Linked DNA regions of Homo sapiens: region 1 is linked to region 2. Evidence: fine-mapped expression QTL. Tissue or cell type: nasal epithelium. Region 2 holds a variant in brackets; the other region holds the start of a gene. All regions are shown on one strand. Distances are between the middles of the regions. Region 1 holds the start of NEK6 (NIMA related kinase 6). Region 2 overlaps NEK6 (NIMA related kinase 6).

What was found. PIP is the estimated chance that this variant, and not a neighbour inherited with it, causes the effect.
Region 1: it holds the start of NEK6, and the variant in region 2 is fine-mapped to the expression of NEK6 in nasal epithelium (TOPMed, PIP 0.95).

The regions. Positions count from the first base shown.
Region 1 is chr9:124,253,393-124,262,411 of GRCh38, forward strand. NEK6 (NIMA related kinase 6) reads left to right here and starts at 4,557. Exons shown (of 10, transcript NM_014397.6): 1 at 4,557-4,693. LOC613206 (a long non-coding RNA gene) reads right to left here and starts at 7,776. Exons shown (of 2, transcript NR_149024.1): 1 at 7,702-7,776; 2 at 5,818-6,102. RefSeq lists enhancers at 829-1,208, 1,219-1,308, 1,339-1,428, 5,174-6,119 and silencers at 4,577-4,706, 4,767-5,136.
Region 2 is chr9:124,275,932-124,284,950 of GRCh38, forward strand. All of the region lies in intron 1 of NEK6 (NIMA related kinase 6), which reads left to right. Among named protein-coding and RNA genes, the nearest start is that of NEK6, 22 kb to the left of the region's middle. RefSeq lists a silencer at 6,839-7,133. The variant C/T (reference allele first, on the strand shown) is at 3,433.

The DNA of each region.
Region 1 (9,019 bases), 23 kb before region 2:
GAATTTTGAACTGTGGGCAAGTATTATCTATTCAAGCAACAAATTAAACATTTTTTAAGTTAAATAACAAAAAATGAGCCAGCTACTTTATAAAGTGAGCCATATGATGATGTGATGACTCCTACATCCCTATCCTGACCGAAATTCCCCCGGGTCATCAAGTAACAGGAAATCTTAGAAGGTCAAGGTTGACAGGACTCTTGGAGACCCATCCCCACATTGTGCTAGGCAGGAAGTGGCCCGGGGTCACACAGGGAGTGGTGGCAGGGCTGGGGAGGAGGTGGAGAGGGTCCCAACTCCTTCTGCAGCCAGCAGGGTTTGCTGCTCCTAAAAATGTGACTTAACTGCTTAAACTCTCCTGGAAGTTCTTGGTGGGACACCCAGACATCAGTATGTGGCGAAGAGCCCAGCAGACAAGACACCCCCATTTTGTATAATGTAAAAAATGAATCCCCCAACGCAGTGGCCTTTGCAGACACCCAAGGTGACCCTAAAGTTGATCATCCAAAGCAAGACACTTGCAGAGGGAAAGGGGTTGCTGTCAATAATCGCACCCGGATGACAAGAGCGAATGAATCCTTCTGGGAAAATTGGAACTCACCCCCTACAAAAAATCCCATTACCGGGAAGATGGCAAGAAGATATTTTGTAACAAAGGAACTTCAAAGGAACATGGCCTGATTCTAAGTTCTTCTTGCCTCTCCTCTCTCCCCCATTACCCCCTCCCCCAATACTAACAACAATAAAGGACTTGAGTTAACCTGGATTCAAATCCTGGCTATTTTCTGAGCCTCAGTTTCTTCATCTATAAAACATAAATCATGACCCCTATCTCAAGGGATGCTATAAGAATTAACTGTCTCTTACAGAGCCAGATGCAGAGAAGGTGCCCGGCAAGCGGTAGTTTCTCTTCCCTTCGTGCAGAGAAATAATGAAACAACACATACTGAATCCTGAAACTCTTTGGGGGTGAACGGAGACAGACTTTCTCCCAGACCAGTTGAACAACGCCTCGGTGGGCAGAAGTGTGAGGCAACGTGTGCAGGGAGACGCTCATCCTAATTCTGGGTGTCATTTTGCAAAGCACTGCTTCACGATGACTCATTTTGGGACTCCCTAAAAACTCCTTTGAGTTAAAAACAAAAGTTGAGTGGGATTCAGCTTGCATTGTACCTTATCACTCTACTGTGCCCTCGTCAGTGTATCAGAGTACTGCAGGGAATTCAAGAATCTCTGAGCAGGCTAACCCTGATATTTGCCCCATAGTGTCACCAGGAGCTGGGACCATCTGCACAGGGCCCAGGACAGAGGGAAAGAAGTGGCCATGAGGGATGGAGGAGGAGGAAGGCCAGGAAAATGGGGTGCATGGGCCTCCCCTACCCTGCTCCCATCCAAGGGGGAGGGGGACCCCCAATGCAAAAGCACTCCTGGGTCCTCCTACCTATCCCTGCTTTATTTCTCCATCAAACTTTTTTTTTTTTTTTTTGAAACAGAGTCTTGCTCTGTTGTCCAGGCTGGAATGCAGTGACATGATCTCAGTTCGCTGCAACCTCAGCCTCCTGGGGTCAAGCAATTCTCCAGCCTCAGCCTCCCGAGCAGCTGGGATTATAGGCACGTGCCACCATGCCCAGCTAATTTTTTTATTTTTAGTAGAGATGGGGTTTCGCCATGTTGGCCAGGCTGGTCTTAAAGTCCTGACCTCAGGTGATCCACCACCTCGGCCTCCCAAAGTGCTGGGATTACAGGGTGAGCCACTGCGCCTGGTCTCCACCAAACTTCTTATCTTTGAAATGCCAGACATTCACAGTGTCTTCCTCCCATCCCACTCTCCCACCTTGGCTGAAGCCCCAAGAGAGTCAGAGCTAGATTTTTGTTCACTCCTGTATCCCAGGACAAGGCTTCTTTATTCCCCTAACACTCAGCCTGCCTGCAGCCAGACCTACCTCTGTTGATTATCATTGGCTGTGTGACCTGGGACAGATTGCTTGACCTCTCTGAGCCTCGGTTTCCTAACTGGAAAATGAGGACATCACAAGTATCTGTCATACGGGTTCTGTGAAGCTGGGGAAGGGCTTTGCAAGCAGTAAAGTCTTACATAGATATTGTGTGTTGGGGGTGGGGGCAGTCCTTTCCTCCCAGTGGCCTGGTGCGGCTCTCAAAGTTTCCTTCAAAAGGGAGTTTCTGGTTCTTGCTCTGTAGCTTAACTGAATAGCTGCCAGAACATGGGACCTGCCCTCCACACAGTGGGCCCCTACTGACTTCTCCCACTCCCTCATTCAGGCCTCTGCTCAGATGTCACCTCATCAGAAAGGCCTTCTTCCAGCACCCCCTATAAAAAAGCACCCCTGGGTCCTCCTACCCTTCCGAGTTATTTCTCCACCAAACTTCTTTTTTTTTTTTTTTTGGAGACAGAGTCTCGCTCTGTCACTGAGGCTGGAGTGTAGTGGCGCGATCTCGGCTCACTGCAAACTTCGCCTCCCGGGTTCACGCCATTCTCCTGCCTCAGCCTCCCAAGTAGCTGGGACTACAGGCGCCTGCCACCATGCCCGGCTATTTTTTTGTATTTTTAGTAGAGACAGGGTTTCACCGTGTTATCCAGGATGGTCTCGATCTCCTGACCTTGTGATCCGCCTGCGTCGGCCTCCCAAAGTGCTGGGATTACAGGCGTGAGCCACCGCGCCCGGCCCAAACTTCTTATCCTTGAAATGGCAGATATTCAGTGTCTTCCTCCCACCCCATCCCTCCCCCTTGACTGAAGCCCCAAGAAAGGGCCATATTTTGTTCACTCCTTTATCCCAGTGCCTAGAAAAGTACCTGGCCCATGGAAGGTGCTCATAGATGTGTCGGGTGAACCAATGACTGAACTAATGTTTGCTGCATGAATATGGCCAGTATCACAAATCCTCTAGTAACACTGCAATACGCTGTCTCAGAACTTCGATTTCTTTCTATTATTTGTTGCAGTGTTTATTTCTTCTATTTAACTTTTCAATCTGTCTGACATTTATTGTGGTGTATATCATGGGAGGCAAGGCTGTAAACAGATCTCCAGCTAAACGGCTAAACAATTTGCAGAACAATCCATTTCCTCCCCATTGGTTTGTGATGTCTGCATTTTCATCCACAAGAGCTGGGACCAGGCCCGCTCCTGTGGGCCAGCTGCTGCCTCGTCTGCCCTCTTGTTCCAGAAGCCCAGGGCTATGCTGTTCCTGAGGCAGGGCTGCCTAGTGATTGGCCACACAGGCACTGGAATTAGACAATCTGCCGTGCACTTTCCAGCTCAACCACTTACCATCTGGGTGACTTTGAACAAAAGAATTTGCTTTTTATTGTTGTTGTCCAGGTTGGAGTGCAGTGGTGCGATCATAGCTCACTGCAGCTGCTAACTCCTATGCTCAAGAGACCCTCCCGCCTCAGCGTCCCGAGTAGCTGGGACTGCAGGCAGGCACTACCACACCCAGCTAATTCTTACATTTTTCTGTAGACATGGGGTTTTGCTATATTGCCCAGGCTGGCCTCAAACTCCCAGCCTCAAGGCATCCTCCCACCTCAGCCTCCCATAGTACTGGGATTACAGGTGTGAGCCACCGCACCCAGCCTGAAATTTCATTTCTAAGCCTCAAAGCCCATCTGTAAAATGGGCACAAGGGTAACGTTGGCACACGTGGTGGACGCTCCGTTGGTGTCATTATTACAGATCACGGCCAGTTGAAGCACTTCCACTCATTTGGCAAACAGAAGCCAGACGGGCATTCACCCTGTGCCCAGTACAGTGCTGCGCCCAAGCAGGCAGTCAGTGTCCCTGGCTCCAGCCCTCCTGGGGTGCAGCACAGTTTTGAATGTGGAGGGGAGGCAGCAGGGGTGGAAACAGCCCAGCCAGGAGCGGCCGCTCTCGGTGCGGGGAGGAGGTGAAGTGAGAACTGAGCTGCTTGGGTCTCAGGGAGGCTCTGACTTCTAGAGGGGGCGTTCAACATTCTTTAGTGGGGACTTTTACTACTTCCAGAAACCTCTGCACATTGGCTCTTGCTGGTCCCCCGGGGGCCACAGGAAGTGGGAGCTCCAGATGAAGAGTCGCTGGCACTTTGAGGGCAGGGGGCAGGGCCTTCCCCTCATCGGAATACTCTTGGAGCCTACTTCAGTGCCTGCATTCAGCTGGTGCACAATAAGTGCTTGTTACTGTGCCAATTTCAGTATGACTAGGGCTGTGGTAGGAGCAATGCTAGGCGATGGGGAATCCGAAGACGCACAGGAGTCCAAGGGTTGGCTGACTGCAGACCCTCATCATAAGTCTAGAGCCGGAGAAGATGGGGAGACGCCGGCCTGCGCCCTGTGAGTCTGGGCCTCAGTCTTCCCATCTCTGAAATGGGGAAGGGGTTCCTCGGCCGAGCGGATCGGCCGCAGAACTCGGCGGAGTCGAGGGGTCCAGGCCCAGGAAGGACGCCGCCGGGGCGCCCCCCGCCCCTCAAGCTTGCGTGGCGGCAGCGCGCACGAGCGCTGGGGGCGGCGCGGCCCCGCGGCGGGGAGGGGCGGGCGCGCGGGCGCGCGGGCCCGCGCAGGCGGTGGCGGCGGCGGCGGAACCGAGCTGACGGGCGTGCGGCCGCTGCGCCGCAAACTCGTGTGGGACGCACCGCTCCAGCCGCCCGCGGGCCAGCGCACCGGTCCCCCAGCGGCAGCCGAGCCCGCCCGCGCGCCGGTGAGTCGCCTGGGGCTGGGGCCGGGCCGGTGGGGCCCCGCGGCCCGGAGAAGGGCGGGGGCCGGGCGGCGGGGCCGTCACCCCCAGCCGGGCCGAGGGCGGGCGCGCGCCCACGGCTCCGCGGGGGAGAGCGGGAGGCGGGCGCGAGTGTGGCCGCGCGGGGCTGAGCGTGTCGGCGGCCGGGCGGGCGGGGGCGGCGTGTCCGCGTGTCCCGGGGTGTGCGCGTCCCCGGCGGGTGTGCGTGTGCACCCCGGAGCGTCTGGTGGCGTTGTTGGGGTGAGTGCGTGCGGGGACGCGGGCATGGCTCCCCGCTACCCACTTCCCGAGTGGGGACGACGGGCGGAGGAGTGTGCCGGGCGCCGCAGGGAGTACGTGCGGGTCTCAGGGAGTGTGTGTGTGCACGTGTGTGCATTCCAAAGTGATTTGTGTGCAAGCACATGCGTGAGCCTAGAAGGGCGAAAGTATGCCTGTGTGGGTGTGAGTATAACGAGTGTGCAGGGCCGTGCGAGCGTGTTTATTACTGAGGTTGAGGGGCCGGCCCCCTTTGCGCCCACCAGGCCTTTGCACAGTGATGGCCCCCGAGCCAGGGAGCCCGTGGAGAGAGAAGCGGCCTGGCATGGGCTGGGGGTCGGGGCTGGGCCTGATCCGGTGAACCAGGGGCCAGGAGGGCAGACTCAGAGCCTGGCTGGGCCTGACAGAGGCAAAGGTCTTAGAGCCAGGCTGCGGCAGGGCCACTGGCAGGACCCTCTCTGCATACACAGGCTGGGCGAGCGGAGGCTGTGGTGGGCCCCTCGGCCGGGCACCCGAGGACGTGTGTTTTCCTAAATATCCTCCAGGCTCTCCTGTCTTTGTTCTTGTCTCTCTCCAGCCAGGCCTGGGGGGCTGACCCTAGACTTGCCTGTGTATGTGGGGGCCTCTCTGCCTGCCCTGCTAAGTAGACGGATCTTTTGATTTATTTATACCTCTCCTAGGCTCCAAGTGTGAATCCCAGGACAGTAACAAATTGATCACAGCGGGCTTGGGACACCAGCTTCCGAGGTCTGTCCTTGCAGTTTTGACTGACAGGCTTTTGTGTGTGTGCGTGCTCTCTAACTGTTGAAAATCTTTGCAGCTGAAAGTCTTAATTGCTTTAAGGCAAACTTTAGAAATTCCAGAGCTCCCTAGTTGGTCTGACTTTTCCAAATTCAGCTTGCCTTTTTTGGGGGAAAATGTCGCCTTAGTTTGGTGTACAGTACGTGCAGGCAGGTCTTGGAGGCACGTTTAAAAACCCTGTCGTTAATGGAAGAAGAATTTCATTGAAAGGGACGCAGAGCCGTCTGGAAGCGCCTGCCCCGGACTCAGCGAGTTTGGACTCAGCGAGTTTGAGCTTACCGAATGAACTTTGGACGTCTTCTTTTAGCAAACAAAACCTGGAAGGAAGCAAAAAAGACCCACATTCTTTTTCTTTTTTCTCCTGAAAATGAAAAAAAGAAAACACCTTCTGGGTTTGCTGGAAATGCCCCCTCTCCTTCCCCCATCAAGGCCAAGCCCTCGCTGCGTCCCCCACCCCCAAATAAAATATGCCTGTGGGGAGCCGTGGAATGAGTCACTCCCTGGCAGAGAGCCTGACGGGCAAACATTTGGGAAGGTTCTTGCCTAACTTCCCAGAAGAAAAGGCCCAGGATTTAAAATGGTCCCTGTGGTTTGTCAGCCTCTGCTGTCCCGTCTGCTTCGGAAATGACTAAAAAGTAGTTTGTATCTCCACAAAATAAAGTCTCAGACTGAAGGCCTTAGACCCAGGTTGGTCTGGATTTAGAGCTGTTTGGGTTTCCAGAAATGGAGCGCCTGGCTTTAACTGGTGGCATTTCTGGTGGGTTTGAACAAGGGCAGAGGAGGGAAATGGGGAGGAAGTTCCCTTTTGCGGAGCAGAAGGGGCTGTGTGCTGGGAGCCGTTCTAGGGGGTGTGAATCTCCCGTTGGTCTTCTGTGACAGAAAATGCTTTTGGTTTTGTGCACAAGGAAACTGAGGCACACGGGGGTCAAGCCTGTGTCCTGGGGCAGCTGAGAGGAGGTGGGGGCAGAATCCGAAGTCACCTGCCCAGCCTCACAGCCTTTCCTCTTTCCATTGCACTTGGGATATGGTATTTGACTGGCTAAGGTGCACAGACCTAGTGCTGAGTACTTTAGCACACATCCGTTCATTTTCTGCTCATCGTAGATAGGGTTTATTATCCCCATTTCACAAATGATAAAACTGAGGTTCAGAGACATGACTTGCATAATTTCATTAAAGTAGCACCACGATAGATGGTCCCCATTTATTTTTATTTATTTATTTATTTATTTTTGAGACAGAGTCTCACTCTGTTGCCCAGGCTGGAGTACAGTGGCGCAATCTCAGCTCCCTGCACCCTCTGCCTCCTGGGTTCAAGTGAGCCTCCTGCCTCAGCCTCCTCCTGAGTAGCTGGGATTATAGGCAGGTGCCACCACGCCCAGATAATTTTTGTATTTTTAGTAGAGATGGGGTTTCACTGTGTTGGCCAGCCAGGCTGGTCTCGAACTCCTGACCTCAGGTGATCCGCCCGCCTTGGCCTCCCAAAGTGCTGGAATTACAGGCATGAGCCACCATGCCCGGCCATGTCCCCATTTACTGAGGATATACTGTGTGCTAGGTCTGGTGCTGTATTTTACCCAGTCCACTCACCAACACTAAGATGGAAGCTGTCACGATGCCCATTTACAGATGAGGAAACTGGGGCACAGAGAGATGAGAGAATGCGCCAAAGACCATGTGCTAATACGCAGCAGAGCTGGATTTGAACCCAGGCTTGTCTGAGCAGAGCCCATGGTCTCCCCACTGTACTAGGAAGGTAGCAGGCACTGTGGGCTGGATGCCTGGCCTGTGCTGAGGTTCAGTGTCGTTTTCCTGATCTTACAGAGAGGGAGGTTAAGTAACTTGGGCAGGGTCATAAACCCACAAATGGCAGAGTCGGGATTCGAACCCATGTCTCTGATTCCAGAGTTCCTCACCTTAAACCACATCTGGCTGCCTTTGTCGTGCTTTGCTCCTGTTGCATGCTGCAAAGCCAAGTAGGTTAAGACAGGCTAGGTTCCTGCAGGGCTGGGTTGCCCGAGACCTGGGAGAGGTCTTCCAGAAGGCACTGCTGGCCTTCCTCGCCCAGGGCCAGAGCTACTGGAGAGAAAGGGCTGCTGTTCACATTTTTTCTTTTCTTTAAGTGCCCCAGATACTTTTCATAAGGGAAGTGTCAAAACAATTGTCAAAAGGAGAAGAATATTTCCTTCCTCTTCTCAGGCTAGACCAAGCAAGGGAGTTGGAGGGTGGAGAGTGGAGGGACCTGGTGAATCATCCAAGATTAAATACGGGCAGGCACTGCCAGGCTTGTGTGGAGATGAGGCTGGGACACTGTTCGCAGGAAGAGTCCGGTGTTCTGGCCCCCTGATGTCACCTTCACGGGCCTGACTCACAGTCCTAAATATCTGACAGCGAGATCGCTTGTAGGTAGGCTTCTTGTCACTTGTCATTTAAGTCCCCTGCCTGCCTTTTTTCCCTGCTCATTTCCATTTCGATCACGGCTTCTACTACATGTGCTTGAAATGAATGTTGTGTGTGAGGACCTGTGTGGTTTGGGCCATGTTGTGCCCCCCTGCCAGTGTCCTTCGGTGTTGAAAGGAAAAGGTATTTCTCTCCCTTCCATGTATGTTCTGCAAATTGACGAACATTTGCAAATTGCTTTGAGATGCGTTAATTTAAGGTGTGAAATAATAGATCTTGTGCGAAGGCTCAGCCACATTTCTGGCATTGATGGATTTTTCTCCCGTCTGGCCTGTGATTTGGGGAGGTAAAAATAGTCCTTTTTTCCACATTTTTATCTTTTTTTTTTTTTGCTGACATCATTCTTAGGAAGTGGTGTGCACATGCCGTGGAACTTTACATGGAACATGGAGCTCTGGGGAGCAGGAGTGCTCTTGGAGTGAGGGGTGGTCTGCGGTGGCCCAGGCACCCCCTGGCTGTCCGTGAAATGGCTTTGAAATGAGCAGGCACTGTTGAGGGCCTCAGTGGCTTTTTGGTATTTGGCTGTCTTTTCACTTATGACTCTTGGGTAATGGCAAGATAACTTTTGGGGAAAATGTTAGTTTAAAAAGAAAAAAAATCAGGCCAGCACTTTCACTCATTCCTGTCTGAGCTGGTCCCTTCCTTTGGCCAAAGCTGAACTAAACCAATGGCCTTCTCAGACTCGACTTCCAGACAGAGGAGCCGACATTGGGGCAAATCAGTTGGTGGTGTAATTTCCTGTGATGTTAACTTTGGGAACTTGAACTTGGAGTG
Region 2 (9,019 bases):
CATTGTGCCTGCTGCGGTGATCCTTTAAACGACAGTTAGGTTTGATCCTGCGGGAGGTGGGTGTTTGGAAAGGTTTTGAGCAGGGGAGTGGCCCCCCTGAAGCAGAGTGTGGCCCGTGGAGGCTGGGGGGCTGGGAGGCGGCTGTGAACTTCAGGAGAGAGGAGGGGGAACGGGGCTGTCCTGGGGAGAGTGGGGAGAAGTGGGGAGCAGCCTGGAACAGTGCCGGGCACCTGGTGTCCACAGCCTGAGCTCCTACCTGGAGACCCCTGGATCAGGGAGTAAAGAATTCTGGGCTGCAAGTCAGAAGAAATGCTCCCCAGGGGCTTCAGTGGCTCCAGAGTCTCAGGAATCATCTCTGGATGGGTGACTGGGGCAAGGGTGGGCTGGGGCCCTGGTCTTAGTCTCCTCATCAGTCAAGGAGGGCAATGTGCTTTTTGCCCTTGACTCTCCTCTGACCCTGGCCCTTCATACCTGGATCTGGCTTGGGAGCAGGGTGAGGCCGAGGCCCACAGAAGCCATAGGGTCAGCCTAAGAGCAAGAGTGGAAAAAGAAAAATCATGAAGCAATAATGAGCCCGTGGTACATCGAAGGGGCCATTGAATCCCCGTGGACTCAGGACGACAGTGGCTGGAACAGTGGTTGTCTATGTGTGGCTGGAGTGTGTGCAGAGGGGCCAGTGCTTGAGCCTGAATCTTCACAGCCCCTCCTCCATACATGCAAATCCTAACAGTATGTTATTATTGATATGTAAATATTAGCTATTAGCTTTTTAAACAATAATTCCTCCTCCTATTGCTATTGTGGCTCGTTCATCAGAGCACCCTTCAGATCAGTAGGGGTTGGCCAGGTGGCGAAGGCCTGCAGTTAGAGCATGGGGAGACTGCGTGAGCAGGTGCAGAGGTGGGAAACAGCAGTTGCAGGAACCATAAGTGGCTCCGTGGAGCTGACGTGGTGGAGGACAGACATCACCTGGGCTTGGGCTTGATGGGTCAAGGGGTCTTAGGTGCTAAGCTCAGGAGGGATGGCAACCCAGAAACCTTGAAGGTGGATAAGGAAGGGGAGATGGGGTCTTAGGAATATGTGTCTGGTGGCGCGTGTGGAAAATGACGGTGCTAAGGCTGGGAGGACTTAGAGGCCAGTGGGGAGGCCCAGGTGCTGATGCCACTGTGGACATTCCTGAGCCTCTCAGCTACCTGAGGCCGCACTTCCACCCAAAAAGAGTCCTTGGCTGGGCCGGGTGTGGTGGCTCACACCTGTAATTCCAGCACTTTGGGAGGCCAAGGCAGGTGGATTGCTTGAGGCCAGGAGCTCGAAACCAGCCTGGCCAACATGGTGAAATCCCACCTCTACTAAAAATAACAAAAATTAACCAGGCATGGTGGCACACGCCTGTAATCCCAGCTACTTGGGAGGCTGAGGCAGGAGAATCTCTTGAACATGGGAGGCGGAGGTTGCAGTGAGCCGAGCTTGTGCCATTGCACTCCAACCTGGGCAAGAGAGTGAGGCTCCATCTCAAAAACAAAACAAAGAATCCTCAGCTCTTTCTCCCATCCCACCACCTTCTCCTACCCTTTCCTGCTGGGTGTTGGGGCAGCGGAGGGCTCTCCCCTTGGCACCCTCAGCCTCTCTCGGCTTTCCTGTGAAAAACCAGGCCGATGCCTGCCGACTTGTGAGAATAAATGATAAAATCTGTGACGCTCCCAGCACTGCCTGGGGAGAGGAAGGAAAGTGTTGTCTTCCCTAAATTCCTATTTCTGCGTGTCGTTTATTCTCTTCCCTGTCAGAGAAGTTGTTTTGCTTCCTGGGGACGAGAGAGGCCCGCGTTCACGGGAGCGCGCCCGCAGGCCCCATCCAGGCAGGTCGGCGGCCACGGAATTCATTTGTATCCCCAATTTCCAGGCTGCCTCGTGAATCTGCAAGAGCCCTGCTCCTCATGTGCTGTGGAGAGTGCATCGTGTTGTCCCTGTGACTGATTTCTGATCCTCCCTGCATTTATTTGTTTATTTGGGTCTGAGAAGTCCAAAGTGAAGCTGTGAGAAGGGGCGCCTTTGAGTTTTAATACGGGATGCACCATCATATAAGGACACTTTGGTCAACAGCAGACTGCGTATGTGACGTTGGTCCCATAAGATTATAATGCCATCTTTTGACTGTACCTTTTCCACGTGTAAACACACAAATACTGACCATTTCATTACTGTCGACTGCAGTACTCGGTACAGGACCATGCGGTACAGGTGTGTAGCCCAGGAGTGACAGGCGACACCCTATCGCCTAGGTGTGGGGGAGGCGAGACCGTCTGGGTTTGTGTAAGTCAACTCCAAGACGTTCACACAGTGACAAAATCGCCTCGTCATGCATTTCTCAGAGTGTGTCCCTGTCGCTAAGCGATGTGTGACTGTTTATATCTGTGGTACTTTGTAGGCGTTGGGGGCATGGGCTGGGTTTGTAGGTTCCCCTAGGTGAGCAGTAGTGTCCCAGGCATTGAGGAGGGCTGTTTCCAGGTCTGTCCGGGTGTCGTTTTCCGTGGAGGAGAAGTTGCTCAAGAAGATGAGCCCAGGCTAGCCCACAAGCCCTCACCCCCTCGCAGACCCAGGTGGCTGCAGGAGGATTCTAGAGGAGACTGGGTTCTGCCCGCCAACAGGGGGCTCAGCCACACCCCCCCACCCCTGGCCCACCATAGGACTTAGTGCCCACTTGGGATGCGGTCAGAATATTTTTAGGTTGAATGGGCGCATGAGGGTGGGGAGACGCATGCGTCAGATACCGGCTGGATGACTTCATGTATGTTGGTTGACACATTATACAGCTGGGGAGACTGAGACTCAGAGAGGCTGAGGGTCTTGGCTAAGATGCCCAGCAAAGAAGTCTTCATACCACATCTGACTCCCCGCTCCCTTGAGAATTCCCGTCACCTAGAGCACCCGTCCCAGCCCCTGCCGCAGTGCTGGGGAGGATCAGTGGAGACCAGGGTGGGGGGACCAAGCACGATCTCAGACCTCCTGTGTACCGGGGCACTTTGCCTACACAGTCTCATCTTCAGTAGATCTCTTTCCTGGTTTTCTGATCACAAAAGTGAGGCTTAGAGAGGTGATCAATTTGGGCGAAGTTTCCCAGCAAATAGGTGGAGTGTCCCATATTTCAATTCTGGCCTGGCCTGGAGAGGATGGGGGGCTTCAACCTGTCTTGGTGGGATAGCCTGGGCTGTGATACCGGAGGCATCACTTTCCCACCAAGAAAGAGCAGGAGGGTCTTTATGGGGGCAAACAGGGCAGGGAGCTCCCCCTCGGACCCCTGGGAAACATGGGGCTAGATTGGGCCCGACACCAGCCCAGTCCCTTTGCAGCCTACTCCAGCCTTTCTCTTCCCTTTTTTTTTTTTTTTTTTTGAGACGGAGTCTCACTCTGTCACCCAGGCTGGAGTGCAGTGGCA[C/T]GATCTCGGCTCACTGCAACCTCTGCTCCCCGGGTTCAAGCGATTCTCCTGCCTCAGCCACCCGAGTAGCTGGGACTGCAGGCACACACCACAACGCCTGGCTAATTTTTGTATTTTTAGTAGAGGCAGGGGTTTCACCATGTTGGCCAGGCTGGTCTCGAACTCCTGACCTCAAGTGATTTGCCTGCCTCGGCCTCCCAAAGTGCTGGGATTACATGCGTGAGCCACGCGCCTGGCCCAGCCTTTCTCTTTCTGACTTCACTTGCCCCACCTGTGCAGTGGGAGGACAGGAGAACCCCTTTGTCTGTTGAGTGCTGATTATGTGCCAAGGAATTTGCTGCATGATCTGATCTGATGGCCCCAGTGACTCTTTGAAACCCGGCCCCTTATTGGCACCACCCAGTCACTCCCTGGCTGCGTTTCCCTCAAGGCACGTATCGCTGTCTGAAATGACCATGTCTGTTCACTCTCATGTCTGTGTCTACCTCCCAACCACGCAAAACCTGTGGGAGGGGAAGGCCTTCTCTCTCTTGTCCACTCCTGTGTCCCCAACCCCTCGGACAGCACATGGCTTCACAAGCTTCTCAAGAAATGCTTGGCAAATGATGGCAGAGTGGGTTAACCCTGGTGTTCTCAAAAAGGGAATGGAGGCCCACAGAGGGCAGGCCCATCCCTGGGTCACACTGCCAGGGCAGGATTGGAGCCCCTGCCTGTCCAGGGTCAGCTGGGGCCTCTCTCACTGACCAGCTTTGAGCCTGGAATTCCAGGTGTGCCTGGCTGTGTCCTTGCAGGTTCACACCGCCCAAAGAAACTTCCAGTCCACACTTGTGGCTTTGGATCAGCTCAGAAAAAGTGTGTCCTGTGACTGCTCGAGGAATCTGGGCATTTAGCCCAGAAAAGAGTGTGTTTCCTGGCTTCCTGAGAACTGGGGCCCACCCTGCCCCTGGTCTAGGCGTGCAGAACAGGAGGGAGGGGAGTTGAAATCGGGGCCTGGAAGGGTACGGCGTCAGACCTTATCATCTGAGTGAGGCTTGCCGCTCACGCTGAGACTGTCCCAGCCGAGCACTCCAGGAGAGGGTATCCCCACCATTGGAGCGTCCTTAGAGATGGCAGCAGCGCCTGGAGTTGCTGGAGAAGAAACATTCCTCACGCTCATGCGAATGTTTCCCTGGGCTGCTGTCCCAGCACTGGGTACCGTGGGGCAGACATGGGTGTGACGTTTTCCAAGCACGAGGTGACCAGTGTCCATTGGGTCATCAGGCCTCCAGGGCCACATGTTTGGAAAGCTATTCCTGGAGCACCAGGCATCTGGCACCTCGCTCTGTGGCTAGGCACGGGTTTATGAGGGGACCCTGCAGAGAGCTGGGGTCCTCAGCCTTGACATTTGCACATTGTGTATAATTTCACGCTTTGCTTTGCTTTTTTCTCTTCATTTTTTTCTTTTTTTGAGACAGGGTCTTGCTCTGTTGCCCAGGCTGGAGGGTAGTGTCGTGATCTCGGCTCACTGCAGCCTTGACTTCCTGGGCTCAAGGGATCCTCCCACCTCAGCCTCCCAAGCAGCTGGTGCTACAGGTGCATGCCACCACAGCTAATTTTTGTATTTTTTGTGGAGATGGGGTTTCTCCACATGTTGGCCAGGCTGGTCTCGAACTCCTGACCTCAGGTGATCCACCCACCTCAGCCTCACAAAGCGCTTTTGTTTTTCTTGAGAAAGATCAGAGCTTCCCTGCTGCATCTCCCGCTTTTCGCTTGTGTTTTCTTTTCTTCCTCACCAGCAGGCTGCCTGGTGACTGGCCTGGGGGCCTCTTCCCTCAGACCAGGAAATCACCCAGTACTCCGAGAGTGTTCACTAGAATTACCCTCATGTTCACTGGAATATACTGGTCAGATTTCTGAGAGGGAGACCCCCTTTTTGTACTCATAGGAGAATGGAGGAGGCCGGCCATGCTTCTCCTCAGCCACGATTGAAAAAGTCACCTAGCACAGTGGCCTGAGTCCACTGGTTCCCAAATCCCAGACCCAGGCCAGGCCTAGGGCCGTGTGAAGTCTTCCGCGGACCCACGGTGAAATAAGAAAAGGAAGGCCTGGCTTGGCATAGCTACTTTCCATGTCAGCTGTTTTTTCTTTTTTTTTTTTTTTTTTTTTTTTTTTTTTGGAGGCAGAATCTCACTCTGTCGCCCAGACTGGAGTGCAGTGGTGCGATCCCAGCTCACTGCAAGCTCCACCTCCAGGGTTGAAGTGATTCTCCTGCTTCAGCCTCCTGAGTAGCTGGGATTACAGGTGCCTGCCACCACACCCAGCTAATTTTGTATTTTAGTAGAGACAGGGTTTTACCATGCTAGCCAGGCTGATCTCGAACTCCCGACCTCAGGTGATCTGCCTACCTCGGCCTCCCAAAGTGCTGGGATTACAGGCGTAAGCCACCACACCCGGCCTGTCCTTTCTTTTATGAAAGATGGTGATACTAGGTGGACGTTTTATTTTAGATGCCAGAAAACTCTGGCAACCTATGTCTATCTTCAAAATGTGGGAGAGGCTGTCCAGGCCTGTGACACCTCCAGGCCCGGAAGCCATTGATGTACTTCTGTACCCCAGACACAGAAGTGGAGCCCGGGGCAGACTTTGATGCCTCAAGAACCTCTGAGTCATGGCCACACGTGAGCCCCCGGCTCTGCCCTGGTGTGCGGTGGGGCGTATTGGTTTCCTAGGGATATTATAACAAATTACTGCAAACTGGGTGCTTGAAAACAATAGAAATTCATTCTCTCTTGGAGAATCCTGGAGGCGTGATGCCTGAAATCAGGCTGGTGGTAGGCTCAGTTCCCGTGGAGGCTCTGACAAAGCACCTGCCGTGCCTTTTTCTGGCTTCTGGCAGGCGCTAGCCACCCTCCTTGTTCCTTGTTCCGTGTTCCGTGGCTCGTCTACACATCCCTCCAGTGCTCGCCTCTGTCGCCACATGGCCTTCTTCCTTGTGCGTCTGTCTCTGTGTCCATCCCTCATAGAAAGACACCCGTCATTGAATTTGGGCCACCCTAATCCCATGTGACCCCAGCTTAACTTGATTAGTATCTCCAAGTAAGGGCCTATGCCCCAGTTCCAGATAGACAAGGGTTTGGGGGGAACATTACTCTGGGGGCGTAAGGGATGAGGAGGGCAGGTCCAGGGAGCCTGCCCTCATTCCCAGGAGGAGACAGGAGACCAAGGAGCAGAGTCTGGCGGGGGAACGCTGTCACCACAGCAAGGGCCAGGCTGGGGCCACAGGGGGTGGGTCAGACACGCCCACTGAATACTCAGGGGCACGGGAGGGCCGGGATCCCCCTGACTCTCTGCATCCCAGATTCATTCCTACGCTTTCATACAGGCCCCAAAGACAAGTGCTGAGTAGATCTGGGTCTTCAGCACGATGTTTTTTAAAAACAGGCTTGCAGCGTTTGGTCCTTTGGTGGCACCAGCCAGGACCACTGAGGGCTGAGAACGTCTCAGCGCCCAGCATAGGCCGCCAGCCCTGGCTCTGCTCTTTTGGGTTAGAGAGCGGCCCCTCCCAGTAATGACAGGGCCCGCCATTCCCGGCAGCGCCCACCAGCACAGCCTCCCCCGCTTTGTGGACAAAGGGCAGCCTGTGGGGCAGGAAGGAGGGAATCCAGCCTCCCCTGTTCCCCCAGAGGCCTTTATCTATTTTGGCAAAGGCCCTGTGATCAGACGTTTCCGCCCTGACAACTCCCTGCCAAGTGATCTCAAGCAAGGGAGTCCCAGAGCCCTGCTGAGCCCCACTTCTCTCCTGTGAAGTAGGAGGCACAGTTCCAGCCCTGACCCTCTCAGGAAGGCTGGGGATGACAAGGCAAACCCTTCCCGTGCCTAGCCCAGGGCCTGGCACATAGTAGGTGCTCAGTCAATACTGAATGAGAGAGAGCATCTTGGAGCCCAGAACGTAAATTTCATGCCACTCCTGCGACGGAGCCTCAGTGGGGCCTCTTGGGAAGGAGAATCTATAGGCATTTCCTTCCCCACGTCCTAGGACACAGTTAGCTGAGACGACCGGGCAGGGGTGGGGAAGTTGAGTGCACGGGTGTAGCACTGGACGGAGGACAGAGGCTGCTAAGCTGCATCTCAGGCATTGATTGGCATTGAGGAAAACCCACCTAGACTTGGTATCGCGGGAGGGAGGGTCATGTGCAGGGAGCCCTGGAAGGGAGCCTGGAGAGCTGGGTGCCAGCCCTGGCTCTGCACCCCTTACCAGCCATGTGCAGGTCATGGCAGTGCCCTGTGGATCCTACTTCCTGAACCTCCCCTCTGCAGGCTTGATGCCACTGCTGTCATTTCGGCCTCTATCCCACAACTCGCACAGGGCTTGCCTCACCTTTAGGCCTTTGCACGTGCCATGCCCTCTGCCTGGAGTGCCCTGCCCCTATTCCTCCACTCAGAGCTGCTTCCCGTTCCGAGGAAAAATCCCATGCCCCAGGTAGACTGCACGCACATTTTCTTGTGTTTCCACACCCTGCTTTGCAGAGCAGCGGGCACCCTGGTTGTAGTTTAAGGGACGCCTGAGAGCCCCATTGAGGATGGAGATTGGTCCCCCTTGCCTGGCACACGCTTGGTGCCCAGCACTTGTGTGTCCATTGAGTGAGCAAATAATGGAATGTCTGGAGGCATGTGACGCCTCTGCTGTGTGGCTTGGTTTCCCCATCTTTAAAATACCAGATGTGGGCCAGGCGCAGTGGCTCTCGCCTATAATCCCAGCACTTTGGGAGGCTGAGGCGGGAGGATCACCTGAGGTTGGGAATTCGAGACCAGCCTGGCCAACATGTTGAAACCCTGTCTCTACTAAAAATACAAAAATTAGCCAGGTGTGGTGGTGCATGTCTGTAATCCCAGCTACTTGGGAGGCTGAGACACGATAATTGCTTGAACTAGGGAGGCGGAGGTTGCAGTGATCCAAGATGGCACCACTGCACTCCATACTGGGCGAAGACCGAGACTCCGTCTCTAAGTAAATAAATAAAATAAAATACTGGATGTGGACTGATGGAGTCCTTGGGGATCTGGTGAAACATGAGGCCTCAAGTGAACGGACTCGGGTCTTTCCTGCTCCCAGGAGTGGAATGGGAGCGTGGCAGCGACCACGCACACGTTTGTTTAATGATTATCCAATGTTGACCCAAAACTATGAGCAAAGCTCCGGGGATTTTCTGGGCGTTCAGCACAAAATTCCCAGTTAATGGGTTCCAGTGTCTTAAAAAGGCAGGACTGAGGCGGTCTCTATGGAGTTGTTCTGACTGCAGCTGGGCCCTGTCCTTCCACACCTGCCCCTGCAGGAATTCTCCGGACGCCTGTGGAGGGAAGAATGTGTGTGTCTGGGGTCCAAGACCACATGCACCGCCTGGTGGAACTTTCTCTGCTCTTGCATGTCTGGTGGGAGCTTCCCTTAATGACACAGGATCTGCCGAGATTCATCCCCAACTCCAGGCTGGCACCAGTGTTCAAGCCCCTGCCTCTGCTGTCTCCCAGGTCTTCAAATTTACACCACTCTGACTCTCAGTTTCCCTATCTGCAAAATGAAGGCAGGAATGCCCACCTCATGGGGTGAGCC